4 linked regions of the Homo sapiens genome follow. The main gene of each other region encodes a partner of the protein of the gene in region 4 in a complex. Each region holds a gene or a part of one and is shown on either strand. Other genes may lie near its edges. The genes, in order: RAN, UBE2I, EIF1AX and IPO13. A codon is read from its position in the direction of its gene.

Region 1 (4,994 bases), on a different chromosome or scaffold from region 4:
AGATACTTTTTTGGGATGAGGGGAGTATTAATGGTGAAGTATATCAGGGAGATTTGATAGGGTCAGCTCATCTCTCTTAGGAGGAATTGTGTATTAACATTTTTAGAATTGACAGAGACCTTGAAAGTGAGGGGAGAGATACAGGTGACTCGTTGAGGTCTAAGACTATAACTAGTTGAATCCTAGTCTCTGGTTCTTAGCATTCTTCACTTGTGCAGTAAACTGAGTGTACTAATTCCCACAAATGTTTCTTCAGCCCAGTGTGCCATCATAATGTTTGATGTAACATCGAGAGTTACTTACAAGAATGTGCCTAACTGGCATAGAGATCTGGTACGAGTGTGTGAAAACATCCCCATTGTGTTGTGTGGCAACAAAGTGGATATTAAGGACAGGAAAGTGAAGGCGAAATCCATTGTCTTCCACCGAAAGAAGAATCTTCAGGTGTGTAAAATTAAAACTTCCTGAGTTATTTCTCTTAGCGGAGATTATATGTAAGACCATGAAATTAACCAGTGTCTATTATATATGGAAATGATTTTTTTTTCCCCAAGACGGAGTCTTCCTCTGTCCCCCATGCTGGAGTGCAGTGTCGCAATCTTGGCTCACTGCGACCTCCGCCTCCCGGGTTCAAGCAGTTTTGTCTCAGCTCCCCTAGTAGCTGGATTACAGGTGTGTACCACCACGCCTGGCTAATTTTTGTACTTTTTTTTCTAGTAGAGACGGGGTTTCCACCATGTTGGTCAGGCTGATCTCCAACTCCTGACCTCAAGTGATCCACTTGCCTTGGCCTCCTAAAGGGCTGGGATTACAGGCATGAGCCACTGTGCCCGGCCGGAAATAATTTTGTCTTTTTTATACTACTGTTTTTAAAGAATGATAGAGATTGGGTTTCACTGTTGGCCCGGTTGGTCAGCTGAAATGTTTGTGTATTTATATATTTGTTGTTCGAGACAGGGTCTTGCTCTGTTGCCCAGGCAGGAGTGCAGTGGCATGAACATAGCTCACTGTAGCCCTGAACTCCTGGGCTCAAGCAATCCTCCCACCTCAGCCTTCTGAGTAGCTGGGCTCACAGGCACTCACCACCATGCCCACCTAATTTGTTTTTTTGTGGAGTTGGGGTCTTGCTCTGTTGCCCAGGCCTGATCGTGTACTATTGGCCTCAGGCAATCCCACCTCAGCCCCCGAAAGTGCTGGGATTACAGGCATGAGCCACCATGCCTTGCCAAGAATCTTAACATTTTCTTATCTTGCAATGTCCTAGAAAAATCGTCATCTTAATAATGAATTTTAAAAAGTAATTTTACCTTTCTTTTAAACAGTACTACGACATTTCTGCCAAAAGTAACTACAACTTTGAAAAGCCCTTCCTCTGGCTTGCTAGGAAGCTCATTGGAGACCCTAACTTGGAATTTGTTGCCATGCCTGCTCTCGCCCCACCAGAAGTTGTCATGGACCCAGCTTTGGCAGCACAGTATGAGCACGACTTAGAGGTATTGTGGCCACTTTGCTGTTCAGATTGTTCGGTTTGGCTTGTTTATTCCTGGCAGTTTTGATCTGGAGTGTTAACGTTTTTCCATCTCTTCGTCTAGGTTGCTCAGACAACTGCTCTCCCGGATGAGGATGATGACCTGTGAGAATGAAGCTGGAGCCCAGCGTCAGAAGTCTAGTTTTATAGGCAGCTGTCCTGTGATGTCAGCGGTGCAGCGTGTGTGCCACCTCATTATTATCTAGCTAAGCGGAACATGTGCTTCATCTGTGGGATGCTGAAGGAGATGAGTGGGCTTCGGAGTGAATGTGGCAGTTTAAAAAATAACTTCATTGTTTGGACCTGCATATTTAGCTGTTTTGGAACGCAGTTGATTCCTTGAGTTTCATATATAAGACTGCTGCAGTCACATCACAATATTCAGTGGTGAAATCTTGTTTGTTACTGTCATTCCCATTCCTTTTCGTTTAGAATCAGAATAAAGTTGTATTTCAAATATCTAAGCAAGTGAACTCATCCCTTGTTTATAAATAGCATTTGGAAACCACTAAAGTAGGGAAGTTTTATGCCATGTTAATATTTGAATTGCCTTGCTTTTATCACTTAATTTGAAATCTATTGGGTTAATTTCTCCCTATGTTTATTTTTGTACATTTGAGCCATGTCACACAAACTGATGATGACAGGTCAGCAGTATTCTATTTGGTTAGAAGGGTTACATGGTGTAAATATTAGTGCAGTTAAGCTAAAGCAGTGTTTGCTCCACCTTCATATTGGCTAGGTAGGGTCACCTAGGGAAGCACTTGCTCAAAATCTGTGACCTGTCAGAATAAAAATGTGGTTTGTACATATCAAATAGATATTTTAAGGGTAATATTTTCTTTTATGGCAAAAGTAATCATGTTTTAATGTAGAACCTCAAACAGGATGGAACATCAGTGGATGGCAGGAGGTTGGGAATTCTTGCTGTTAAAAATAATTACAAATTTTGCACTTTTTTGTTTGAATGTTAGATGCTTAGTGTGAAGTTGATACGCAAGGAAAATGGTCCATGTTTACCCACAGTTTTCAGGTACTCCTAGACTTTAAAGATGTCTTGAACATTTAAGTTCTTCAGCAGTTCACACTACACCGTTTTTTTGTTTTTTTTTCCCCCCCGGGAGGGTTTTTTTGTAGGGCAGCACAGCAGAGCAGGACATGGATGAAATACTAGGAATATGCACAGTGGGGCAGTGTGGGGGCTTCTCAGTAATGGAGAACAGTTGGTGAAACTTTTTTTTTTTTTTAACTAAGCATTTAATTTATCTTGCATATTTTCCACATTTAAAAATGAATTAGGTCTATTAGGATAATTAGGAGTTTGATCCCATCAACACTATTCTTGTAGCAGTTAGGAATCTTGAGCTATTTTTTTCTCATACGATTACTATAGTCCAGTTTACCAAAGTTTTCTTTAGATGTCTGATAATCTTGAGATGATTGCTTACCTTAAAAGGTATAGAAAGGATCACTTAAATATATGGAAAAATGAAATAAGGGTGAAGCTGAATAAAGTTCTACTTACTGTATTAACTGGCAACAGTTGAGTTTCTTAAGATCTGAATTGCTGTGTATGTTACGCTGTATTCAGAACCAGTTTCTAACCAGCCTGTGAGATGGGAAGTTTTTTCCCCATAATTGGGATGAAACCTTTCATTCAGGTATTTTGAATTGAAGGTGTATGTGTTGTTTGTAACCTTGTGGAGATTGCAAGTGGTGTTGACATTCTGGATCTTCTATGTAACAGTTGAAATTTGGAAGTGACGTCACTTACCTGTCTAACGTGGTGTGGGAGAGAATTTACAAGTCCTTTATTGAAAGAATAATTGTTGCAAAATATATTGCTTCTACTTTGCCTGGATTTTTTGAATCATCTCTAGTATTTGCTTTAGGAAATGCTGAAGAGTTAGCAGAGATTATTATCTTTTGGGGGGGCGGCGGGGAAGGGGTCAGTTCTCTCCAGATTGTACAAATGGGAAAAGTCTGCTCTCCATTTTTTGAAATCTCGTGTCTAATGGGGGAAGCCTTGAAAGCTTTATATGAAGTTACTGCAAACCAGTAATAGCTTATTAGAGCAAAGTCATTAAGAAAAAGCATAGTTAGTGCATAGGTCTTGTGTGGATATAATGTGAAACTGGTAAATTAGTAGTTTCAATTTGTGTGAGAGCCAGTTTTTTTAAAAAACCACATAGAATGGGATTTTTTAAAAAATTGTATCAATCATAAAATGTCTAGAAAAGATGAGACTCCAAAATAGCCTCCAAAGAGGACTGGTTTCCTGGCTAACTGTTCACCTGAAGGAACTCAAGTACAGAGAATTTCTGGTTTCTTTTGCAAAAACAGATCAGAAACACAAAAAATTACCTGCTGAGCAAATGGGATGAGGGTTGGATTCAGCTTTTCTTGCCAGCAAACTGACGGACATCGTGTATGATGTTTTCTGCCACTCGGGCTGTACAGGGCTATCCTGCCCAGCAAGATTACGTGAGACTAAGCTTTCCCTGTATGAGGCAGACCCTGTACTAGGACAGCACCTATCCTAACTCCTTGCAGCACCTTTTACCCTTGAAGCCGAGGGCATGGTGGGGAGAAACGGCACCTAACCATGGAAACCTTATCTTTAGTTAAGGGGTCAGAGTCCTATTCAAAAAACATCTGATGCATCTCGCCTGCTCCACATTTCCTACAAGGTCTTGCAGGCTCTGGTCACACGTGCATCTTGAGATCTGTGTGCATGCTGCTTTCCAGAACTCCCCCTTCCCTCTCCTGAAGTCGGTCCTACCAGTTAATGCTTTAGTTCCTTTAGAGTTCACTCTGCTTTTTACCTTGAGTTGGATGTCCGACTACAGACATTACAAGATTGCCTTCAGCCCTAGTCAGCATGGCAAATTTGCGATAGCGACTTTCCCTTCCTAGACTAATTGCCACGAGGGCGAGGGCCATGTCGCTGCTCTCTCATGTCCCTAGTGTTTATTAAATGTTCTATGGGAACCTCGAGGAACAGAGAACTTGGGGGTTAGAGATAGGGTGGGATTGATGGAGGTGGGTGGAGAGGAGCCGGGAGAACTTTATACACCATTAGGTCTGACTATTCTGAAGTCATGCTGGTATTTTCTTCCTGAGGTTTGTAGCCTACACTATCTTTTTAATTTTATTTATTTATTTATTTAATTTATTTATTTATTTTTTAGAGTCTCGCTCTGTCTCCCAGGCTGGAGTGCAGTGGCGCCGTCTCGGCTCACTGCAACCTCTGCCTCCCGGGTTCAAGCGGTTCTCATGCCTCAGCCTCCTGGGTAGCTGGGACAGGCATGCGCATACACTGTCTTTTATCCATTTATTCTGGCTTGTTTCTTTGGTGCACAGGAGTAGAGAGAGCCAGTGTGGACAGTCGGGAAGCTTGCGGGATGGACCTCAGTTAAAATGGTGCCATCAGCAGGTGTTGGGGCTGTGATGCTTGAAGTTTAGT
Region 2 (8,881 bases), on a different chromosome or scaffold from region 4:
GCCACCAGCGGGGCCAGGGCTGCTACTAACCAGTAAATCGTGTAGGCCTCTGCTTGAGCTGGGTCTTGGATATTTGGTTCATTTAGAAGTTCCTGTATTCCTAATAGGATCTGTGCCAGAGACAAAAACACAAGACGGGTGTGAGCAGTTTGAAAGGGAGACACCGTGAGACTCGGCCTCAGCCACAGAGAATGACCACAGACCCACGTGTCCGGAGGGGAGACTAAGGCAGCCCTGCCGGTGCCAGAGGCGGAGGCCCCGTACCTGTTTGATTGTGATGGCTGGCCTCCAGTCCTTGTCCTCCTCTAAGATGGACAGGCACACTGTCCCCGAAGGGTACACATTCGGGTGAAATAATGGTGGTTCGAATTTACCTGGAGGAAGAGGAAGAAAGGAAGCACTTTTTGGAGGCAGGCACTGTCCCAGAGTCACGTCCTTCCCCACATCACCCTCCTCCCAACACTGGGGCCCCGGGTTGGTAGCCAGGTTATTTGGCCAAAAACTTTTCAAAAAAATTAAATTGTGGCCATGAGGAGACTAAAGGAAGACATATCCACCTTTGCACACAGGGAACAGAGCCTTGGGGACACGGCCGCAGCCGAGACGAAGCTGTGTCTCTCCCAGGACAGAACTCCCAGCACAGCCAGGCAGTCTGGGAACACAGGCCCCAGGGTGGCCACTTAACCTGTGGCCCCCACATCCTTTCCAGCTGGGCCAGACTCAGGGGAGATGGGAGGAGCTGCAGGAGACGTCCAGGGACATAGCCAACGCCCTTCCAGAGTCGGCTGTTCCGACGCAGACCCTCTGCTTCCAGGATATACGGGCTTTTAGGACCCTGTGTTATTTCTTTACAAAAAAGCAGAAAAGTTTGCCACCATTAGCCCCACCAGGGACCATCACAGTTGATATTCTAGGCTATTTCCCATCTTTTACCTGGGCATCCTCCCTCTTCTCTCTCAATGCTACGGAAGGACACACAGTGCGGCATGTCTAGTGCAGCCGGAGGAATTACCAGAAAGCCAACGCGCCACGAACACCTACAGCTTCCCCGAACACTCGCTCCTACCGACCACTGCATCTGCCCCGTAATCCCAACTGCAACATCCGCAGGCAGCTTCCTGGACTTCAGGTACCATGGAGATGCACAGGGCACACTCCCTGGGGAACGCGAAGACACCACCGCAGACCGTCCCACACCGCGACCATCCCACACCGCAGGAGCACACGGGCGACACCAGCAGCTGCGTGGCTGTCCTGAGTGCGAACACGCGTGAGCGCGCTGCTGTGGAATGTGGGGTGACGGTGTTGGCCCTCAAGCCGTGCTGCTTCCAGGCTGCTCACGCAGGCTGCGTCGCTGGCGGATTCCAGCCACCGGGTGAGGTGCACGGCAGCCACTCCGTGGTGCTACGCTGCGCCTGCTGGTGACCGCTGAGCGCCCCTTTCGGCCCAGGCTGCTTCCTGGCGACTGCTTCGCAGAAGTTCCTCAAGCGATACGTCTTACAGGGCTCTTCTGCTTGGGGCTTGACTTTTTGCTTTTTTAATTTTTTGAGATGGAGTTTCACTGTGGTGCCCAGGCTGGATCTCGGCTCACTGCAGCCTTCACCTCCCGGGCTCAAGTGATTCTCCCGCCTCACCTTGGCCTCCAGAGTAGCTGAGGTTACAGGCACCCGCCATCAAGCTTGGCCAATTTTTCTATTTTATTAGAACCGGGGTTCCTCCACTGTTGGTCAGGCTGGTCTCAAACTCCTGACCTTAAGTGATTCACTTGCCTTGGCCTCCCAAAGTGCTGGGATCACAGGTGTGAGCCAACGCGCCCGGCCCGACCTTTTCCTCTTCTAAGGGAATCTTTTGGCAAAAACAAAAATTGCCTAATTTCAATTTAATCTGATTCTCAATCTCGTTTCTTCTGCCGATCACAACTTACCCGCAGAAAGGCACAGATGCTGGATGCCAGCACTGCCAGGTCCACCTGTCCCTCCCAAGGTAGAGGCTGCCTCCTACTTCCTCATGGCCTCCGGCTTGGCCGCTCCCGCGCTTCAAAGAAGGAACACAAAGGGGGTGCCCTCCTGTCTGGACTGTCCGCCAGGCATCATGTGGCCTCTTCACTCTTCCCTACCTGTCATCCTAGGACGTCTGGGCTGGGGCAAGTGGGGGTGACACCGGCACCCATCTGTGCCTCTGGTGGACACATGTATGTGCTTCTGTGAATCTCGACTGACTCAAGTGAACAGCCAGGTCCTACAGCATGAGCTCAGCTTCCACTGGTGTGGCAGGCAGCGTCCAGGGGAAACGTTCAGAACATCCGCTCTCTCCAGCGGTGGCTGAGGCTCCCGCTGCCCTGCGCCGCGGCTCCGTCTGCTCCCCTGTGCGCTACGGCAGATCCCACTGGGGAGGCTTTCACTCTTTGGCAAAGCCAGGCATCCCTGCCGCATTTGCTGGCTGGGTGGAGGCCTTTCCTGTGAGGGACACGCTGGACGTCATGGCAGCCTTCTTACTGATTCCCAGGAGCTCTTGGTAGATTCAGGGTGAGGGCTGAGGTACGTACATACACTGTAGTGTGCCCTCCTGCCCGGCGCCAACTGCAGTCTTTATGATAAAGAGAGATTCTTAATTTCAACTTAGTCAACTCGTCAATCTCCCTCCGGCCAGCACTTCACTGCATCCCTGGTGAAGAGATCCCTGCCTGCCCAGGGCTCACGGACACCATCCCGGGTCTTCCTCTCCACGCTGTCCTGCTTGGGCACCACAAGCCATCTGGAAGCTGTTTCTCTATGGTGGGAGGCAGAGCTCGTCTCTCCTGCTGGAATATCCCTCAGGTGTCACAGCCCAAACCACCACATGCGTGGCCTCCGGACTCCTCGTTCTGTCCGCGGGTCTGCCTGCCTGTCTTCTCAGCAAGCCTGCAGTCTCCATCACCGTGTCCCGTGGCAGGTCTAGTGGGGGGTGGGTGGGTGTGCTCTGCACCCACGGAGCCTCAGCCTGGGTCTCGCCACCCCACCAAGAAGCCAAGGCCTCCACGTTTCTGCATTTCCTGGGTCCATGGGACAGTTTCCAACAAGATGTGCTTGACTCCAACTGGGATCACATGGAATCTGCAGACGAGCCTGGAGAGAAGGGCTGTCTGTACAATGTCGTGTGTTCCCCTCCACACACACGGCAGAGCTCAGCTACCGCTCAGGCCGGCCTTGGTTTCCCTTGCAATATTCTACAGTTTTCGGTACAGAGGTCCTGAACCAATCTTTTATTGCATTTATTCCAACGTATTTCATGCTACTATAAATGGCAGTTTTAAAACCTTGCTCGCTGAAATGATATAAAAGCAGATTTGTGTACCTCAATCTCGACTTCATTTTTATATTTATTATTTAGCTTTGTTTCCTTTACCAGGTCCTGTGCTACTTTTCTTTTCTTTTTTTTTTTTTGAGACAGGGTCTTGCCCTGCTGCCCAGGCTGGAGTGTAGTGGCGCGATCTCGGCTCACTGGACCCGCCTCCTGGATTCAAGCACTTCTCCTGCCTCAGCCTCCCGAGCAGCTGGGATTAAAGGCACCCACCACCACACCCGCTAATTTTTGTTTGTTTGTTTGTTTTTTTTAGTAGAGACAGGGTTTCACCATGTTGTCCAGGCTGGTCTTCACCTCAGGTGATCCTCCCACCTCGGCCTCCAAAAGTGCTGGGATTCCAGGTGTGAGCCACCGTGCCCAGCCTTGCACCTCAGCTTTACTGAGCTGTTGTCCTGGCCTTCCTCCCCACCTCTTCCGTTGTGACTTCTTTTTCTTGTCTTGCTGCATTTGCTTGGAATTCCAATCAACGGTTGAACAGAATCAATGAAAGCAGCTACTGTGTCTCATTCTTATATTTTTCTTAATTAAAATAAGTCATCTTAAGTAATACCTGCTCATGGTTTAAAAAAAAAATCAAACAGCAAAGGACAATCCAAAAATGAAGCAAGTCTCGACCAGCTGGTGCTGTCAGCAGTCCTCAAGCTCCTCTGGTCACTGCCACTGTGGAAAACACTTGTGTGTCTTGAGTGACAATTGCAGTGGAAGCTTTTACACAGCACTCTCGCCTCACCGTGGCCAGGCGCTGTCTAGGTGCTGGGCACGTGTTAATGCGTGGAACTCACCACAGAAAGGGCCTGCCGATTTCCAGCTATGGGACGGCAGGGACGTGGCGGCCCTCTCCTCCCTCTCCTGAGTTTTGCTGAACTGACTGAGATCACTAACTTAGCTGTAGGCTCAAAGTCGAACCTGGCCTCAGCCCTTTCTTCTCGCGCCTTCTCTGCTGCTCCCCTGCTCTATGCCTGCCCGGCTGCAGACGCAGCCCCGGGTGGGAGAGACTGCGAGAGCCCACAGGAAGAGCAGTGAGGTGGGGCAAGATAAACCCTCCAGTGAGACTCGGAGTGGTGGCGCTTCTGCACGTCCATCCCATCCAGGGCTGGGGTCTTGTGGGCACCAAATCCTGTCTTCATCGCCAACAATCACTGAGGGTCCAGGCACTCCTAGCCCAGGAGCTCCAGCCTGGATCTCACAGCCTCTCCCTGCAAAGGACTCTGGAGCTTCCCAGCCAATTAGCTGGGATGAGAGACTAAGTCTATTACGTGCACCGCCCACCCGTGGAGCTGGAAACAGACTCGCATCTGCAGCCTGAGGCGGGGATCAGGGATCAAAGCCGACCTCCAAATCTGTGATCTCACTCCCTCCCAGCTCCATGGATCGCCCGGACCAGGGCGCCACGGCCACAGCCACGGGCCTCTTTGGAGAGGACTCCAATCCCCGCAGGAACAGGCCGACTTCCAGGACACTGAACAGGGAGCTACTTACATTTTGGTGGCGAAGATGGATAATCATCTTTGAAAAGCATCCGTAGTTTAAACAAGCCTCCTTCCCACGGAGTCTGTGGGGAAATAAACCGTGGTGAGATGGGCTGCTTGCCTGCCGCAGGCCGGCCCAGGAGGAAGGGGATCGCTTCTAGGACACAACCTCCAGGACTGCGAGGACACCGGGGGCCAGAGGCCCGACAGAGGCGGCTCCCATACCAGCCTGAAGCCTGGACCAGCCCCACCAAGGGGGCGGTCAGGACCTCTGCCATGCCCAGAGAGTGAGTCGGAAAGGCCCTCCTGGAAAGGAGAGGAGGAGACGGGGGTCGGGGGCTGGGCTGGGGGGCAACGAGTGCCGCACACTGGGGCCGGCAGCGCCAAGAGCACACCCGTGCCCTCACCCCAGGGTGTTCTGCAAGCCCCTGCCCCAGGTCCCGCCTGGATGAGGCGCCTTTGCCACCCCACAACCCGACACCACTCCCGTCTTCCTTGGGGCCGCGCGCGCACCTGCCTCGCCGTAATGTGAAGGGCAAGGGACGTTCTCAGCAGAGCCTCAGACAAGTGACAAATCCAAGCCACATCCTGTCTCGGGCAAAGCTGAGTCCTGCTGGGACTGCTCAGCTCAGGGGGCCGGAGCTGCTGTGAGTTTCAGAGCGAAACCCAGAGGCTGGCATGGGCCGGAGGGAACAAGGCCTCGGGCAGGACCAACACCTCAGGGATCTCTCCTTCCTTCAGAGTCCACGAGCATGAACCTTATGTGCAAGCCGGCCTGGAGTCCCTGGCCAAGCACTTCATGTGAGCCGGGCAAAGAGGACAGGCACATGGGCCGCCCTGCTTGCCACAGACACACGGGGCCCCAAGCAGGCATCCTAGGTGGCTGCCGCCAGTCCCTGTGCCCCAGGAGGTTCTCCAGTAGACGGTTTTAGGCCGGGGTGGCTCTCCTGCAAACCCAGCTCCCGCGACCTGAGCCACACCTGGAAGGACACAGCAGAATCCCGGGTTCCAGCACGCAAAGGCTGCCCGCCCCTCAGGCCTGCTCCCAACACACATCAGAGCCCCTTCCCCTCTGCCACAGCTCAGCCCTGTGCCCGGCCAGGCCCAGCCTGCTTCCTTCTCAACCAGAAATGCCCTCGGTAGGGACACAGCTGTCACCCCAACCTTGCCAGCACCACCTTCTGAGCTCAAGTCCTCACGGGGCGGGGGCCAGGCCACAGCTGGGGATCTGAGCTGTTGACCGCGGCCTGTGACAAGGGTGGCCGTCACGGACGGCAGGGATCTGAGCGGAGTATCCCCATGGCACTGCCGCACGCATCTGCTGAGCCCCGACAGGCAGGAGGCCGGCAGCGCCCCTTACCCCTTTCTTTCCTGGAATGGCGCACTCCCAGTTCATGAGGTTCATCGTGCCATCGGGATTTTTTGTTGGGACAGCCACGAAACCCTGAGAGAAAAGAAAACAACCACAAAAGCATATCAGCGTGGCGGCATCTAGTTTGAGCAAAACCACCAAGAACCGGCCTGCGAGTCCCACCGGCCCAGCCCAGGCACGCGACCAGCTCCCTCCCAGTAGGGAGGGCGCGGTTTCAGCCGAGGGAGCCTGTCCGCGGCACTGCACACAGAAATGAAGCCCTCCTTACAAATGGGTGGTCTTTCCTCCATGCTTTCCTCTCCTGGGCGAGTCTGCTGAGGGCGATCCCCGACATGTTCAAAGTCCCTGGAACACAGGAGGCAGAGCACGGGGTCAGGAGAGGCGAGCGGGCTCCTGCCACCCCAGCACGCGCACGTGGCCCGCAGCAGGCAGGCTTGCTCCTAACATACGGTGGCCTGGCCCAGCAGGGACTCTCTTCTTGCAAGCCGTCGTCCGACCCCGGGGGTCTACCAGGGGAGGCCTTGTGAGCGGCGCCCAGATCACCGGGAGGCGGGGGCAGGTAGGACCCCTCCCCATGGCCCCAACCCAGCCCTGGTCTGCGACACATGCTGCGGCCTCTGCTCGAAGGTGAGGAGACAGATGTTCAGAGGCTGGGCCGCTGCGGCTGGGGGGTAGCTGCCACCCTGTGGTGGCTGACATGGCAGGGTCCTCACCATACCATCAGGTGGGGACTAGGCAGGGCTGGGGCCCCAGATGGATGTGGGGTGCTGGGTCCCTGCCTTAGTATCAGGCGCTCAGAACTGAGACTCAGGCTGGGCCAGGGGACACCTGTTATTCTTTTTTTTTTTTTTTTTTTTTTTTTTTGAGACAGAGTCTCATTCTATTGCTCAGGCTGGAATGCAGTGGCACGATCTCGGCTCACTGCAACCTCCGCCTCCTGAGTTCAAGCAATTCTCCTGCCTCAGCCTCCCGAGTAGCTGAGACTACAGGCGTGTGCCACCACGCCCAGCTAATTTTTGTATTTTTAGTAGAGATAGGGTTTCACCATGTTGAAGACAGAGCAGAACAAGTACCACAGGGCAGAGGCTCAGCCTCACTGAGAGAGGAGCCCTCCACGGGGACACCCTTCCCAGACCGTGCAGCCACTACCACGTCCCTGTGGCTTCAGGGGACAGACGGGTCCTGCAGGGCAGGGCAGGAGCATGGGGTAGGGGACCAGGTCCCTGATCAGAGGCAGCGGCACACACGCCAGATTCCAGCTCCACACATCTGCACGGGACCTCGGGGGCTTGGCACCTTCGCCTTTGCGTTCTCGGCGGGAGCCTGTCGGCCAGCACTGTCACTGGGGACACCAGGCAGACAGGGCCAGCAGCCTCAATGCCACCCTCAACTGTCACCCTACTGGTGGCCACCTTTACCCACGAAAAACAGCGCTCAAGATACAAAACTTGCCCAAGAATTCAAACCTAAGTGTGTGCTGGTTTTCAAAGTCCATGGGAACACTGAAGCTACTACCCCCAAGTCTGATATCTCAACACCAAACAAGAGCCACCTCTACAAAGCTGGGGGACTGAGCCAGGTCTTCTAAGCTGTGGGGGGCCGTCCCTACTACGGCTTGGGCTGTCCTAGAATAGCCACAAGGGCCCTGGGGACCTGGATGGCTCCCACACCTGTGGAGGCCCACGAACCTCACACACCTCGCAGCCGCAGAAAGGGGCCAGGTCAGCAGCTCCACCTGCGTCGGAGCCGCCGCAGCCTCACCTGGCACTCGTTAGGGAGACAAGGCCCAGTCCCCGGCAGACCCACGGACGAAGGAGCTCTGAGAGGCCCGCACTCAGGTTCTGGGTGGCACGATGACTTCCCCAGTCAGCAGAGCAGAAATCGGGGGTGGGGTTGGGATCAAAGAAGCCAAGGCAGGTCCAGTGTCGCCAGGGCACCAGGCTTCTGAAGCTGCTAGAGCCGCCTGCCCTGCAGGTGAATTTGGCTCCTTTTCACCAAACACAGATCCTCAGGGCAGCCTGAGAAAAAGCAGGCGAAGGAACCTGGGTCCTCCAGTCAGCAGGCGCTGGCGTCACAGCGAGAGGGTGACAGGGGCCAGCCGGGCACTGGCCTCCAGGTCCACGACTAAGTCCAAGACAGGCAGCCCGGGCTGGAGGCAGCCCCAGACCGGGCCCCACCGGGATGTCCTTCCCCACGCCCTCCTCACATGATGCAGAGGAGCCCGCAGGCCGCCCGCCCTCTGGACCGTTTGCCCTTCCCCGTGCCCTCCTCTAAGTGAGGGGGGGGGAGCCAGGGGCCAGACAGGGAGAAAGTGGGGGGCACAGCTATGGTCAGGCAGGGTTCGAGCCCAGAGCGGAGTGGAGCGCCCGCCAACCACGGTTTCAAGGCTGTCTCCGCACTGGGCTGGACTCCGAAACTCCACACGTTCCTCCACCCTCCACTCCCACGTGGAGCAGCCCAGCTGCGACTTGAGGACTCACAGCTCTCGCTTCCCCAGCCCCAGGATGGGCTTCCTGAGTGGCCGCAGCCTGTGCCCGGTGCGGTGCAAAGCAGCCTGGCGAGTGGCCATTTCAAGGAGGCACGACCTCCCAGGTGCCCGGGGTCTGAGCGAGGCCAGGCATCAGGCAAGTCTCTGAAGCCTCAGGCCAGTGCTCCAGACACTGAAGGACCATGGGCAAGGCTATCCTCACAGCCAGGC
Region 3 (7,528 bases), on a different chromosome or scaffold from region 4:
TGACAAGTAAATGGGCAGAATTATTGCATAGTGGTTAAGAGCATGGTCACTGGGGTCATATAATAGAAACAGGGATGTTGAGTAGGGACCAGCATTATAAAAGAAAGTAAATTGGGTACCGAACAGATCTTCTTTATTTTTTAAGAGACAGTGTCTCGCTATGTTGCCCAGGCTAGCCTGGAACCTCCTGGGCTTGCTCAAGTGATCCTCCCACCTGAGCCTCCTGAGTAGCTGAGACCCTAGGCGCACACCACTGCACCCAGTGAGATTTCAATATTTATGGTACTCTGCTACCAAAAGTTTGAAAACCACAGTTCTCTGTCCAGACACTGTCTTCACTTAATTTTGAAAGTATCGGGTTCCTTGCATAGGGCCTGGCTTTAGAAGACACCCAAGATTTCCGCTTAGAAGAATATGTATAGAATTGCATTTTTATTTCAAAAGGATGGGTGCTAAAGTGAAATGTTTTTCTATATTTTTTAACATAATATCTGCTATTTATGTGTATTTTATGTCAGAAAAATCCCCAAAGGAAATTCCAAGAAGGGTAGGGAGGTGATAATGTGTTAATGTTGGGATTGGAGATTGTAAATTTAATATGATTGTGTAGCTAAAATAGATGAATTTTTTAATTTAAGTGATCTTTTAAAAAATGGTTTTATAAGCCTTAATTTCATTTTATTTCATACTGTTTTACAGATAATTAATGTCATTTACCTCCTTTTCTTTTTTTTAAACCATCAGGTAAAGGAGGTAAAAACAGACGCAGGGGTAAGAATGAGAATGAATCTGAAAAAAGAGAACTGGTATTCAAAGAGGATGGTCAGGGTAAGTGTTTTCATAAATTACGCTTTTTAAAATAACATCCTTTCTTTTTTAGCTGGGGACTTTATTTTTTTGAGACAGCGTCTTGCCCATCGCCCAGGGTGAAGTGTGGTGGCACGATTACAGCCCACTGCAGCCATGACCTCCTGGGCTGAAGCAGTCCTTCCACTTCAGCCTCCCGAGTATTTGGGACTACAGGCACACACCACCACGTCTGGCTAATTTTAAAAATTTTTTTAGGCTGGGCGCAGTGGCTCACGTCTGTAATCCCAGCACTTTGGGAGGCCAAGGCGGGCGGATCACGAGGTCAGGAGTTCGAGACCAGCCTGACCAACATGATGAAACCCCGTCTCTACTAAAATTACAAAAATTAGCTGGGTGTGGTGGCACGTGCCTGTAATCCCAGCTACTCAGGAGGCTGAGGCAGGAGAATTGTTTGAACCTGGGAGGCGGAGGTTGCAGTGAGCCGAGATCACACCACTGCACTCCAGCCTGGGTGACAGAGGGAGACTCTGTCTCAAAAAAAAAAAAAAAAAAAAAAAAAAAACTGTATAGAGATGAGGTCTTCATATGTTGCCCTGGCTATTCTCGAACTCCTGGGCTCAAGTGATTCTCCCACCATGACCTCCCAAAGTACTGGGAACTAAGAATGTGTCGTATAGTTCAGAGGGAATTGAGCTATGGTTGACAGTTCTGTGATTTAGTTGGCAGTTCTATGATTAGCATTTCTGGTAGTGAATGGTACATATAATATGTTGAGTAGACCATGGACATTTGAAGGATGAGCCTGAGGCCCTTATAGACCTCTCCATTCTCCAGTGCCATTAGCATATAACTTCGTAAACTACAATAAAATGAAACTGAACAGTTAACTGATTTTATTAGACTGAAGAATATTGTAAGTGCCAGACCAAGATACATAGCACTAGTCAAATAAATCCTAACTGGATCGTTTGCCCTTTCCTGTTACTTTTATTTCGAGTCATTTCAAACCTACAGAAAGTTGCAGTATTAGTGCAACAAACTCCCTTAAATCCTTCATCTGTACACACACATATAAAGAAATATATATGTGGGATTTTTTAATTTTTTTTTTGAGATGGAGTCTCGCTCTGTCGCCCAGGCTGGAGTGCAGTGGCGCGATCTCGGCTCACTACAAGCTCCACCTCCCGGGTTCACGCCATTCTCCTGCCTCAGCCTCCCAAGTAGCTGGGACTACAGGCACCCGCCACCATGCCTGGGTATTTTTTTTGTATTTTTAGTAGAGACGGGGTTTCACTGTGTTAGCCAGGATGGGTCTCGATCTCCTAACCTCGTGATCCACCCGTCTCGGCCTCCGAAAGTGCTGGGATTACAGGCGTGAGCCACCGCACCTAGCCCCATATGTAGGATTTCTTCAGGACCATTTGAAATTTAGAGACATCATGTTACTTTTCCCTTACTTGATCATGTATCTTCTAAGTGCAAGTATATTTTCTTATATAACTAGAAGAGAATTATCACACTCAGGTAATTTGACATTGATATAATATCTAGTATATACTCCATATTTCCTCAGGTATTCCAATTATTTCCAGTACTTTAGCTTTTAATAGAACTTTGGGTGGATTTATTACGCCATACATATAAACCAGTAAACATGAGATACGTTTTCTGGCTAAAAGTCCTTTGGTTTCTTAGCCTTGGTCATCCTTGCCTCTAAAATAGCAGCTGACTTGACTTGGGCATACACTGTTTTATTATTACTTTTTCCCTCACTTCAGAAGAAAGGCTGCCTTTGAGTTGACCAACCATGTTGAGGTGGTAGATGGGTGCTAAACTCACTGTAGTCTGAGTAATTGACTTCCACAAGTCATCCCCACTGTTGAGCCTTTCAAAATGAAGTCTCAGTATATTTACAAATTAATGGACATCCTCTCTGGGGATTAGTCATATTCTAATTCAACAAAGACATTGTTTGAAGTTTGTTTTTGTTTGCTAAATGAACTAAAAATTATGAGATTTGCACCTAAAGGTACTGAGGTAAAGGAGAGCCAAAAGTGGGGTAGTCAATCTACTTATTCAGAATGAGTCGATAATTTAAACATGTCTAATAGCAGAGACAGTATATTATAGAAATGGCATTACATTCTCTGAGATCTGCTTTTACTGAAGTGGATCAATGATGAAACTAGCCAAATCTGAGCATCAGAAGGCTTTCCGGTCTACCTGATGCATGATCTCTACAGTTCTGAGAAGCAGAACTATAAAACAATGTAAAACAATAAGGGCATATGTCTGGTGTGTGTGTGGGGGGTGTGTGTGTGTGTGCACGCACACGTGTTTATAAAGGTAGCAGTTGTAGGAATGAATGAGATTGGGGGTGAGGGGGTGCATATGTATGTCTATGAAAGCCTAATCATTTCTGGGCAATGATGTAAAGGTTTTACGACTGACCTTTGTAACTATGAAGTTTTCTACACTTGACCTGAGCTCAGAAAAAAGAAAGAAAGAAAGAAATGTCATCATAGAGTCTTAGTTCTAGCTCTGCCGTTAACTAACTTGATGTTTATCACTCCCTTATGTTTGTTTATAGTTTTACTATATGTATTTATTCCCAACTGGTGCAACTTTATTCTCTTGACAGTTTTATGTGGACTTTAAGTTGCTGTTATCAAAAGTTGAACAATATTCCATACCCTTTTCCTTTCTCCCCGCTAGAGTATGCTCAGGTAATCAAAATGTTGGGAAATGGACGGCTAGAAGCAATGTGTTTCGATGGTGTAAAGAGGTTATGTCACATCAGAGGAAAATTGAGAAAAAAGGTAGGTGTGATTTGTTTTACTTTAATATAAAATTGGTTAAGGGGGAAAATCCCTCTACAGTTTTTAACTGTCCATGGACTTCATTTTTGGAAATTCCCAAAAGACTTACCTTGGTAAACAGTGATTTACCTATAAGTAAAATAGCAAGGTCTGTAATGGTAATTTTATACAGGTTCTAATGTTAAAGAAGCATTTGTATCACTTGTATTGTATTCCTGCCCAAAAAGTCCAAATTGAGAGACATTCTGCAAAAACAAACGGCCCAGTTTTTTTTTTCCTTGTCTTTTTTTTGATACAGGGTCTCACTCTTATCACCCAGCCTGTAGAGTAGTGGCATGATCTGGGCTCACTGTAACCTCACCCTCATTGGTTCAAGTGATCCTCCCACTTCAGCCTCCCGTGTAGCAGGGGCTACAGGCCTGTGCCACCATGCCTGGCTAATTTCTGTATTTTTTGTAGAGATGGGGTTTCTTCATGTTGCTTAGGCTGGTTTCGAATCCTCAGCTCAAGCAATCAGCCCACCTTGGCCTCCCAAAATGCTGGGATTATAGGCATGAGCCACTGTACCCAGCCAGATGGCCCAGCTCTTAATGCAATGTTACTGTCATGAAAGTTTCAAAAAAAAAAAAAAAAAAAAGCTGGGGTACTATTCTAGTTGCAAGGAGACTTAAAGAGACCTGACAGTTAAATGGAGTAGGTTGCCCTTGTTTGGATTCTGATTTAGGAATTGGACATATAGCTGTAAAGTGTACATTCAGAAAATTTGAATATGAGTTATATAAGCATTGTATTAATGTTGCATCTCTTGAATGTCATCGTGAATGGACTGCCTTGGAAAGTAATGATTAATTCACCATCACAGTAGTTATTCAGGCAGATTTATTAATCAGGTTGACTAAAAGTCCCAACTCTGATTTTGTATTTATTTTTTTTAATTTGGTATGTTAATCCTTCTATTCCCAAACTAAAATCTTTTTTTCTTTTTCTTTCTTTTTTTTTTGAGACAGAGTCTCACTCTGTCATCCAGGCTGGAGTGCAGTGGCACAATCTTGGCTCAGTGCAATCTCCGCCTCCCAGATTCAAGTGTTTCTCCAGCCTCAGCCTCCTGAGTAGCTGGGATTATAGGCATGCGCCACCACGCCTCGCTAATTTTTGTATTTTTAGTAAAGACAAGGTTTTACCATTTTGGCCAGGCTGGTCTTGAACTCCTGACCTCAAGTGACCCGCCGGCCTCGGCCTCCCAAAGTGCTGGGATTATAGGCGTGAGCCACAATGCCAGCCCAAACTAAAATCTCTTAATTTCTTTTCTTTTTTTTTTTCTTTTAAAGAAGTTTATTTATTTGTTTTTTTGAGACGGAGTCTCACTCTGTTGCCCAGGCTGGAGTGCAGTAGCGCAGTCTTGGCTCACTGCAACCTCCGTCTCCCAGGTTCAAGTGATTCTCCAGCCTCAGCCTCCCGAGTAGCTGGGACTACAAGGGCATGCCACCACGCCCAGCTAATTTTTGTATTTTTTAGTAGAGACGGGTTTTTGCCATGTTGGCCAGGATGGTCTCGAACTCCTGACCTCAGGTGATCCGCCCACCTTGGCCTCCCAGAGTGCTGGGATTACAGGCATGAGCCACCGCTCCTGGCCTAAAATCTCTTAATTTCTAAACTAATTGATTGTTACTCTGGAATTTCTTGATTCTTCGTTATTTTAAATGTGACGGGCAGTGACTTTTCTTTTGTAGGTTTGGATAAATACCTCGGACATTATTTTGGTTGGTCTCCGAGACTACCAGGTAAAATTTACATGTAAATTTTTCCTATTTTACTGGCTTGAATTTGATGAGCCATTTCTTAAGAGCCAGTTTTGTTTCAGGCATTGTGCTAGGTATCCCAGGGATTTATGTTTAAATCAAAATCTGGGAGCCATTATTCTAGGGGATACAGCTGAATGAGTTAAGTGCCCATCCCACAAAAGGCTCATAGCCTGGTAGTGGAGAGAGTTAAGCACACAAGTAATTACAATACACATCACAACATAGGTATGTGCTATAAATCTAAAGGAGCACTTGGGAAAGAAAGAAAGTGGTGGTTGCCTTTCGTGATGGTAACCCTTGACTCTGTAGACTCATTGTGGGTCTGTGAGATCCATTTGACATCCACCTATTGGAAATCATCCCTGTATGATACTATCTCTATTTGTATAGCCTCGATCATACTTTGATTTAAAAAAAAAAAAAACCCAGAATAAATAATTTAAATCTTCACTTTAAGCCATTGTTTCTCAACTGTGGGCAGTTTTGCCCTCCGAGGGACATTGGCAGTGTCTGGAGACTTTTCTGGTTGTCACAACTGGGGGATGGGTGCAGTGCTGCTAGCATGTAGTAGATAGAGGCTGGGGTGGGCACAGGACAGCATCCCATAATAGAGAATGGTCCGCCTCACAATAATCCATAGCGCTGAGGTGAGAAAGCTTGCTTTAAATTCATACCATTTTAATGTCCATTTTTTTCTTATGATCTAACAATAACCCCAGAAATAGGAAGAATAAGTAATTTCCTGTTCGATAGATAAGGAAACCAAGGGTCCAAAATGAGTAACATTTTGACTGTAAAGTGACAGCCAGGACCAACTTCTGATTTGAAATTATTCATGATCTTTCCGTGCCCCTCCTACTTACAGGGTGGTCAATGGCTCGATAGCATCTTCTGGAAGCTTGTTAGAAATACAGGTTCTTTGACTCTTCAGTCAGAACATGCATTTTAATAAGATCTCCATAGGCTTCTATACACTTTACATTTTAAGAAGTACTGGTCTGAATCACACTGTCCTTGAAGTTGAAGCAATCAATTTTCTCCCTTAACTGAGTTAAATTATTTTCAAATAGGGAAGTAGAAACATTCTAAGGCAGTATTTCTCAATGGGACTTTTGCATCAGAAATACCTAAAGAACTTCTCACAATACTAATTCTTGGGCTTCTCTTCACATCTACTAATCTGTCTTCAGAAGATATAAAAGCTCCACAGGAGATTGTGATTGATACCTAGGCAAAGAAGCACAGATAATACAGAAAGGTATAATTTCCTTAGGTCATTATACCAGTCTCAGTTCAGTCTCAGTTTTGGAATTGCAGTGTTTGATCACCCTGCAAATTATTGTCCCAGGGAACTTTTGTACTTCAAAAGACTTCTGATCAAAGGGTAATATTAAATAATCTAAAATATGGGGTATGCACAGTTCTGCTCTTATTAAAGTGAGATCTCTATATTTCCCAAGCTTGTTAATCATTCAGGCATGTACATAAGCTTCCTCTTGGGTTAAACCTAAGGATCTTTTTCAGAGGGTATGAGAAAGCTTTAAAATTTAAAAGGAGAAAGATTTATAGTAAAACGGTGAGATTTGATTGTTTATTCAATATGAGAATTTATGAAATAACTGATAATATTTTGTTATGATCAGTTTTTTAAAGTTATTTGTCTCTATTTAAGGATAACAAAGCTGATGTAATTTTAAAATACAATGCAGACGAAGCTAGAAGTCTGAAGGCATACGGCGAGCTTCCAGAGCATGGTAATGTCTGAGTTACTGTATTAACTTGTCATATGGTATTTAGGTTATGTGTTGCTGGTTAGGTGAAGGAACTATGGATTTTGCTTATTTACTTTAGTGCTCACATTTTTAGTTTTAAGTATGCCTGCCTATGCTTCATAATACTAGATACTATAAGAAAGAAATTACTGGAATTCTGTTCCTAATAAATATGGTGAGGAGTTCTGTAAGCTTTGGACTTCCACATAATGCTAACTAAAGGAATAATTTTGTTATAGTATCTATTAAAATTCCTTCCTCGAGAGACTGTCAGTGCGCATATGGGTTAAACACGAAGTGCAAGTCAGCCGGGCATGGTGGCACA
Region 4 (6,454 bases):
TTGGAACCTTTCCTTCTCATTTTCTGGCCCACCTCTAGCAGGGTGGCTGCTGAATATCAAACCTGCATGGTGCACACTGGGCCTCACTTTCTAGGACTTAAATAACTCAGGGTTCAGATACCAAAGGGACAGACTTTATTGGTGACTCTTCATAGCCTAGAGAAGGAAGCAGGGCAGAGATTATCTGCTTTACAGATGGGGAAACTGAGCATTTGTGGCTTGCGCAAGATCACACAGCTACTTAGTGGTGTCTTAGGCAGATGGTTTTGTACCACATCCTCCTGAGAGTGGAGAAGCCTGGGTAGGAGCTCCAGGTGCATGCCATATTCTTGCCTCAGGAATGATCAGAACTGGAGGCAGCAGTGTCCAACATCATATACGTTGGGCTTGTTGGTTGTCTCGCTGGACAGGATGGCTCCCATACCTGTTATGCCATCCCAATCTTAGCCATTCCTTCCTCGGGCTCTGCCTTCCCACTGGACCATAGGATGACATGTTTCTTGTTTCCCTGTTTCTTGGCATGTCCAGATGATGGGAACTAGTCCTCAGCCCTGAGCTTGGCTCTCTGCAGAGTCCATGTCCATGTGGAGGAGGTTTGCTGGGGTGGGGCTCTTGTTTTTGGCCTTATGATACTGTTTCCTCCTCTGGGCCCTGCCAGTGACTTGCCAGGCCATCTCCAGAGCATGCTGGGCACTGCCCTACCTAAGCAAGAGTCCTGTGGTTTAAGTGGACTGAATAGATTATTTTCCTTTGCCAGACCAAGAGCCCTAAGGCCATTGAAGTGAGGTGGCACTTACTCAGGCTCTGATGCCCTGGCCTTTCTAGGGCCCTCAGATAAACCTCAAAAGGAGATACCAAGGACTGACTCCCCCACCCCCCCACCGCCATCCCAGCTTTCCTCTTCAATGACTGGCTGATGGGAGGTATGTGCTAGGAGCAGTGTAGGGCTACCCCAACCTGCCAGAGGCCACAGTAAGTGTGGTGGCCGTTTCTTCAGCTATATGGAGTCCAGAATTGCTCAAGTACCAAGGGAACATGAGGGGATGGCCTGAGGAGGAGTGGGGAGTAGGCGGAAGGCCCCTTGGAGGGAGCTGGGGCAGGCCCGTCCTTCACTTTGCCGTCTCTTTCTGTTGGGCTTCTCCCAGTTCATGGTTTTTGTATGTTTTGTTTCTTTATCTTGCTTCCTGCTGCTCATGTGCCCCCACGCTGTCTCCCTGCAGGCTCTCAGTCCCACATAACTATATGAGGTTGAGTTGCTGTTTGTATAATTTTTTCTTAAGTTCCATCTTTATTATATTTTAGGGCCCAGGGATCATCCTGATATTGTTGATTCATTTATGCAACTCCTGGCACAGGTGTGTTTTAGTTTTATTCATTCACGTTCTGTTCTCTCTCTTTCTCTTTCTCTTATGTTGAAATTCAATTTAAGCCTATTTTTAGCTTTCTGTTGACAAATTTTTTTTCTGTTCAGTTGAATAGAGTTTCTTCATCTGTTTCCGTGGAAGTTGACAACCCAACATCCTCCTTTAGTGCCCCTATGCCTCACTAGCTCAGTCTTCTACAAAGACCAGGGAGAGGCTGATCCCAAACGGAGGGAGCTGGGCTGGCATCGGGTGGGGAATGGGAAAGGGAGGGGGTGGTGACTGCGCCCAGCAGCTTCTTGTTGCCCAAGAAGTTCACGTGTAGGGCTGGAGTTGAAGGGTCTGGGGTACACTGTCCCCGTGCTCCTGCCGGGAACTGCCTGCCTCAGTGCCCCCAGCCTGCTCCTGAGAGGTAGGCTGGGAGCAGCTCCAAAGCGAGGGGCTGAAGAGGAATGTGCGCGGTGGAGCCCAGAGTTGGGCTGTTGGAGAGGTTGAGCTGCTGCTAGGAGGTGGAGTGCAGGCTCCATGCTAGGATGTGTTTGCATTTTGTATGTGTTTCAGTGTGTGAGACCTTATTTTGTATGTTTTGAGTTTGGTTTGGGAAGGGAACAGAAATCACCTGTAAGTAGTATGTGAATTGTGTTGGGTGCTGAGATGAATGTGTGCCTTGATGTGTGCTGTATGTTGATGTGTTGTGTGTTTTGTGTTGTTTGTTGATGTGTTAGGCCTTGATGGATTTAGAGCGTGGACGTGTGTTGGAGGTGTGTGTGTTGGGTTGTCGGAGTGTATATTATGGAGGATAGGAGTGTATGTTGTGGCATTGGTATGTCTGTATCAGAGTATGGTTTGGAGATGCATGTTGGGCTGTGGGGGTATGAAGTTAGTGTGATGGGGGCTTCTGTGTGTTAGGGGATCCTAGCACGCAGACCCCCTAACCTGTGAATTGGGGTAAATGGAGTGTTTCTTTGCTTAATCATTCCACAGATATTTATTGAGTGTGTGATACATGCTGTACTTTGCTAGGTACTGAGGATATGATAGCGAGCAAAACCAGGCACAGTTCTTGCTCTCCTGGAACTTACAAGTCTAGTTTCTGGGGGATGGGTAGGGTGGGAGGAGGGAAGAATAGGGAGTGTTCTGGGCCTGGATGGATATGTGTGTGGGTGTTTTCAAAGGTGTATCTTTGATGCGGAGGGTGTCTGAATGTGTATTTGTGGATGGGTATGTTGGAAGAGTGCACAGGGGGACTGTGGGAAGGCTGAGGGTGTAGGTGTGTGGACATGGTTTGGGGATGTGCAGGTGTTTGGTGTATGACTGTGTAATGAGGGTGTGTTCCAGATGGGGAGAGTGTGTGTATGTTAGCGGTGTTAGAGAAGTGTGTAAGGAGGGCATTTCAAGTGATGGTGCATGTGGGGGTGTTTGCACATGAGTAAACATGGGGGGTAGAGGGGATGTGAGGGGCTGGAGGGTAGAGGTCTATGTGGTATGCACTGGGGGCATTGCTGGGGAGCAGCAGTGTTTGAGGATGACTGGAGCTGTGCAGAGCATCTCCTGTGACCTGAGGATGTGCCAGTCATGTCCTGGTACCACTCGGGGCAGGCCATCTGCCCCCTTCACTTCATCTCTTCCCCCTCACCCACAGCAGCACTGGCTCCTTGGTGTGTGTATGGCCGAAGAGGGCCTGGACACAGGGTACCCTGGGTGAAAGATGGGGCTGAGGCTCCAAGGCTCCTGCTGTACTTTTCTTCTTTTTGAGCAGGAGCTGGAGGGTGCCTCAGGAATACAGGAGGGACATGGGAGGAGGGCTGTTGGGCTGAGGGCTCCCTGTCTGGCTGCCATCTCTTCTTCCTGCTACCCTGTTCACAAACTGGGGGTGCTTAACTCCCTCTGTGAATCAACATGAAGTCACTGCTGGCAACCTAGAGCCTGCGAGACATCTGGCCCTGATGGAGGGGGAGGGAAAGGTGTCTGGAACCCAAACTTTCTGCATTATGATCCCCACCCCCAACCTCTCTCACGTACACCTGCGTGTTCATGTACACATACATGTACATAGCATCCCTTGAGCTGTCCTCACCTGACCTACTGAACTCTGAGGTGGTCCGGGTCCCCCAGAGATGGCTGGGTAGCTGGTTTTGGCAGCCTCTACCTGTGAGGTGTGAAGTTGGGGGCTGGGGTGGCAGGTGAGTGGGGGGGATGGTCCTTGGAGCTGGCTGGGGCTGGGCTTACCAGCTCCACCTCCTGCAGGCTCTGAAGCGGAAGCCAGATTTGTTCCTGTGTGAACGATTGGATGTCAAAGCTGTGTTCCAGTGTGGTAAGTGGGGCGAGATGGACAGGTGGGCCTGGGGCTCCCCTAGAAGGATCGTTAAACTGATCTGCCTCTGCCTTTCCCACAGCTGTGCTGGCCCTCAAGTTCCCTGAGGCACCTACTGTCAAGGCCTCCTGTGGCTTCTTTGTGAGTCCCATGCTGAACCCTGACCCACTGCCACCCCAGTGCCCTCCCCTGCCCAGGACTTCAGACAGTAGGGCTGGGGTGTACAGGTCTTGTCCTCAGGGAGAGCTGGGAAGGAGCTGGGCTGATGGGCCTCTCCATCCTCTGCAGACAGAGCTGCTGCCTCGGTGTGGGGAAGTAGAGTCTGTGGGAAAGGTGGTACAGGAAGACGGTCGTATGCTGCTCATAGCAGTGCTGGAGGTGAGACGGAGCAAAGGGGGGTTTGATGGGGGTGAGGGCCCCTCACTGCTGAGGCAGCTGGCCTTCTGGGAGGCTTGAGCCTTTGGTCCCCTAAGCTCTCAGATTCTGTTTCTTCTTCAATTAAATGCCTGAAAGTTGTTAGGATTGCTGTGGGGATCAGCTGGCTCTCAAAAAGCAGCGCTCACTGTGATGTGCAGTTTGGCTTAGGAACTGTCCAGAGGGCAGTTAGGCATTCTTGCTGCAGAAGCGGCGGAAGGGGCAACACCCTGGTGTGCTGAGAACCCCTCTCCCTCAGGCCATTGGGGGCCAGGCCTCCCGCAGCCTCATGGACTGCTTTGCCGATATCCTGTTCGCCCTGAACAAGCACTGCTTCAGCCTCCTGAGCATGTGGATCAAGGAGGCCCTGCAGCCACCTGGTTTCCCCTCTGCCCGCCTCAGCCCTGAACAGAAGGATACCTTCAGCCAGCAGATCCTTCGGTGAGCAGAGCTGGGGTGGGCCTGGGGTCAGGCAGAGAGGGGGCAGTGGTGGTGGCTGGTGCTAACCTGCTCTCCCTTTTCTCCTTCAGCGAGCGAGTGAACAAGAGGCGGGTGAAGGAGATGGTGAAGGAGTTCACACTGCTGTGCCGGGGTCTCCATGGCACAGATTACACAGCTGACTACTGAGGGGTGCCCCCATCCCATCCACCCCTTCTCTTCATCCTTCCCTATTCCCAAAGAGTAAACCTGGACCCTCACTGCTGTCTCTGCCTCCTTTCTGCTGTCACCACCACCTAACTGAAAGCCTGGGTCCAGAAGGCCTGGGGGAAGGATGGGAGGATGCTTGGACCCAGGCCTTGGGAGGGAATGGTGGGAACATCCTCTAGCTCCCAGGTTGGAAGAGATACTACTGTAGCCAAGCCACCTAGGCTGGAGCCCTTCAGAATACTGTCATTGTCCTTGGGGCGGGGTGGTTGCAGTAGTGTCATCAACCCCCCCATCCCCATTAAATTAATCCCAACATGCATGTATGCATACATTTATTTAATCAACACCGCCGAATATTAGGCCCCTAGCTCTGTCCTGCGTCGTTCTGCCCTGAACAAAGGTTGATCTAGTCCATAGCTACCATGGAGAATGGTAGGAAGTGAGGGAAGGCTGCATGGAGAAAGTTTTTGACAGGAATAGTAGGCTTTCTAGGTAGAGGACTTGAGACTTTGGGCTGCAAGTGGGGTAGGGCTGGGTCCGTTTAGGAAGGAAGAAATGGAGTGGAGTTTTGACTTCCGGGAGGGGTTTCTGGTGTGGAGTTATACAACATCGAACTTGCATATGGTTGAGGAGGGCTATAGAAAGGGGCTGAGTGTGTGTGTATTGGGGGGTGGGTGGGTGGCAGGGAGGTGAAGGAGAGAAGATATCTCAGCCGCAGAGGAGAAAAGAGGAAAGTAGGACCTAAGGTTGTCCATATGTCCGCTGCTCCCCGCTTACACAGGACCTCCAGCACAGGATGGTCAGGGATCAATCAGCACCAGGGACAGCTCCTGACCTATTCTTGCTTTTCTCCCTTAGCAGTGTTGCCTCCCTTTCTGTCTCCTCAGCTATAGTTTCACCTAGGCTGCCTCTCAGGTACCCCAGGCTTCTCCTCAGTAAGATCTGAAGAGCAGAATGAGTTCTCCCCACTTTTACCCTTGAGCTTTCAATCTCCTTGTGGGTGATGGGGAACTCGTTACTCCCACATTCATCCCACTCCTTCCCTGTTCAATAGATCCGGGTTTGATGCTGGTTGTGCCACAGAATTAGTGTCTTATTACACAAGTAGTCTCTTTGAACCTCAGTTTCCGTATCTGACAGAGGTATGTAAGGAGGGCATTTCAAGTGATGTTGCATGTGGGGGTGTTTGCATATAAGTAAACATGGGGAGTAGAGGGGATGTGAGGGGCTGGAGGGTAGAGGTCTATGTGGTATGCACTGGGGGTATTGCTGGGAAGCAGCAGTGTTTGAGGATGGCTGGAGCTGTGCAGAGCATCTCCTGTGACTTGAGGATGTGCCAGTCATGTCCTTGGTACCACTCGGGATAATTCTTACTCCAAAGACTGTAAACACTAAAAATGAAGTGCCTAATGTACAGTAAGTGCTCAGTATTTGGCTGATTAAATAGCAAATGCTTTCACTGCATGCGATATCCAAAGAACTACTTTGTAAAGTTTTGTATATAAATTAATTAGACCCTCACAACAATCTTATTAAGAGGTACTATTGTCACAACTCCCCATTCTTCAGATAAGGAAATGGGCATAGGGACATTCCTAAGATACTCAGTAGCAAGTGACCAAGCACAATATTCAAACCCGAGCCGGTCGGCACCAAGTTTAAAATTATGCAGTGTAGCCGGGCACGGTGGCTCACGTCTGTACTCTCAGCATTTTGG

Evidence for each region.
Region 1: the proteins of IPO13 (region 4) and RAN are in contact, whole or in part, in a crystal structure (PDB 3ZJY), measured with the Homo sapiens proteins. Residues at the interface, in NP_055467.3 of Homo sapiens: Leu33, Tyr34, Tyr35, Ile39, Lys42, Gln46, Leu49, Met50, Gln53, Glu73, Tyr76, Phe77, Ser80, His83, Ile84, Ile118, Thr121, Arg122, Val125, Val172, Glu175, Glu176, Thr179, Ser414, Asp415, Arg784 (codon at 1,308), Asp785 (codon at 1,311), Pro787 (codon at 1,317), Asp788 (codon at 1,320), Pro829 (codon at 3,778); in NP_006316.1 of Homo sapiens: Lys37, Lys38, Tyr39, Leu43, Gly44, Val45, Val47, Pro49, Trp64, Gly74, Leu75, Arg76, Asp77, Gly78, Tyr79, Ile81, Gln82, Asn103, Arg106, Asp107, Arg110, Val111, Tyr147 (codon at 1,326), Trp163 (codon at 1,374), Arg166 (codon at 1,383).
Region 2: the proteins of IPO13 (region 4) and UBE2I are in contact, whole or in part, in a crystal structure (PDB 2XWU), measured with the Homo sapiens proteins. Residues at the interface, in NP_055467.3 of Homo sapiens: Leu33, Tyr34, Tyr35, Asp36, Pro37, Ile39, Lys42, Gln46, Glu73, Tyr76, Gln178, Thr179, Arg181, Gln231, Glu261, Val264, Asn265, Met302, Glu303, His306, Arg310, Val313, Glu317, Asn318, Thr355, Ser358, Leu359, Leu361, Thr362, Ser413; in NP_003336.1 of Homo sapiens: Arg13 (codon at 6,481), Lys14 (codon at 6,478), Arg17 (codon at 6,469), Lys18 (codon at 6,466), Asp19 (codon at 6,463), His20 (codon at 6,460), Pro21 (codon at 6,457), Phe22 (codon at 6,454), Val25 (codon at 6,249), Val27 (codon at 6,243), Lys59 (codon at 4,870), Glu99, Asp100, Lys101, Asp102, Arg104, Lys110, Gln111, Leu114, Ile125, Gln126, Pro128, Ala131, Tyr134, Thr135, Cys138, Gln139, Ser158.
Region 3: the proteins of IPO13 (region 4) and EIF1AX are in contact, whole or in part, in a crystal structure (PDB 3ZJY), measured with the Homo sapiens proteins. Residues at the interface, in NP_055467.3 of Homo sapiens: Tyr365, Asp369, Leu372, Asn936 (codon at 4,630), Lys937 (codon at 4,633), Arg938 (codon at 4,636); in NP_001403.1 of Homo sapiens: Leu42 (codon at 3,549), Arg82 (codon at 5,399), Lys88 (codon at 7,110), Tyr106 (codon at 7,164), Gly107 (codon at 7,167), Glu108 (codon at 7,170).

The regions. Positions count from the first base shown.
Region 1 is NC_000012.12:130,874,290-130,879,283, forward strand, and holds the end of RAN (GTP-binding nuclear protein Ran), read left to right. Parts: intron 1-256; coding exon 257-444; intron 445-1,322; coding exon 1,323-1,493; intron 1,494-1,592; coding exon 1,593-1,637; 3' UTR 1,638-3,389; downstream 3,390-4,994. UniProt on the Homo sapiens protein: GTPase involved in nucleocytoplasmic transport, participating both to the import and the export from the nucleus of proteins and RNAs. Switches between a cytoplasmic GDP- and a nuclear GTP-bound state by nucleotide exchange and GTP hydrolysis.
Region 2 is NC_000016.10:1,311,667-1,320,547, reverse strand, and holds part of UBE2I (SUMO-conjugating enzyme UBC9), read right to left. Parts: intron 8,202-8,881; exon of another isoform or gene 7,945-8,201; intron 6,529-7,944; 5' UTR 6,518-6,528; coding exon 6,452-6,517; intron 6,256-6,451; coding exon 6,172-6,255; intron 4,895-6,171; coding exon 4,822-4,894; intron 375-4,821; coding exon 265-374; intron 111-264; coding exon 31-110; coding exon of another isoform or gene 1-30. UniProt on the Homo sapiens protein: Accepts the ubiquitin-like proteins SUMO1, SUMO2, SUMO3, SUMO4 and SUMO1P1/SUMO5 from the UBLE1A-UBLE1B E1 complex and catalyzes their covalent attachment to other proteins with the help of an E3 ligase such as RANBP2, CBX4 and ZNF451.
Region 3 is NC_000023.11:20,131,839-20,139,366, reverse strand, and holds part of EIF1AX (eukaryotic translation initiation factor 1A, X-chromosomal), read left to right. Parts: intron 1-744; coding exon 745-828; intron 829-2,953; exon of another isoform or gene 2,954-3,301; intron 3,302-3,525; coding exon 3,526-3,629; intron 3,630-5,359; coding exon 5,360-5,410; intron 5,411-7,103; coding exon 7,104-7,185; intron 7,186-7,528. UniProt on the Homo sapiens protein: Component of the 43S pre-initiation complex (43S PIC), which binds to the mRNA cap-proximal region, scans mRNA 5'-untranslated region, and locates the initiation codon. This protein enhances formation of the cap-proximal complex.
Region 4 is NC_000001.11:43,962,967-43,969,420, forward strand, and holds the end of IPO13 (importin-13), read left to right. Parts: intron 1-1,302; coding exon 1,303-1,355; intron 1,356-3,608; coding exon 3,609-3,675; intron 3,676-3,757; coding exon 3,758-3,816; intron 3,817-3,963; coding exon 3,964-4,053; intron 4,054-4,348; coding exon 4,349-4,530; intron 4,531-4,619; coding exon 4,620-4,716; 3' UTR 4,717-5,056; downstream 5,057-6,454. UniProt on the Homo sapiens protein: Functions in nuclear protein import as nuclear transport receptor. Serves as receptor for nuclear localization signals (NLS) in cargo substrates.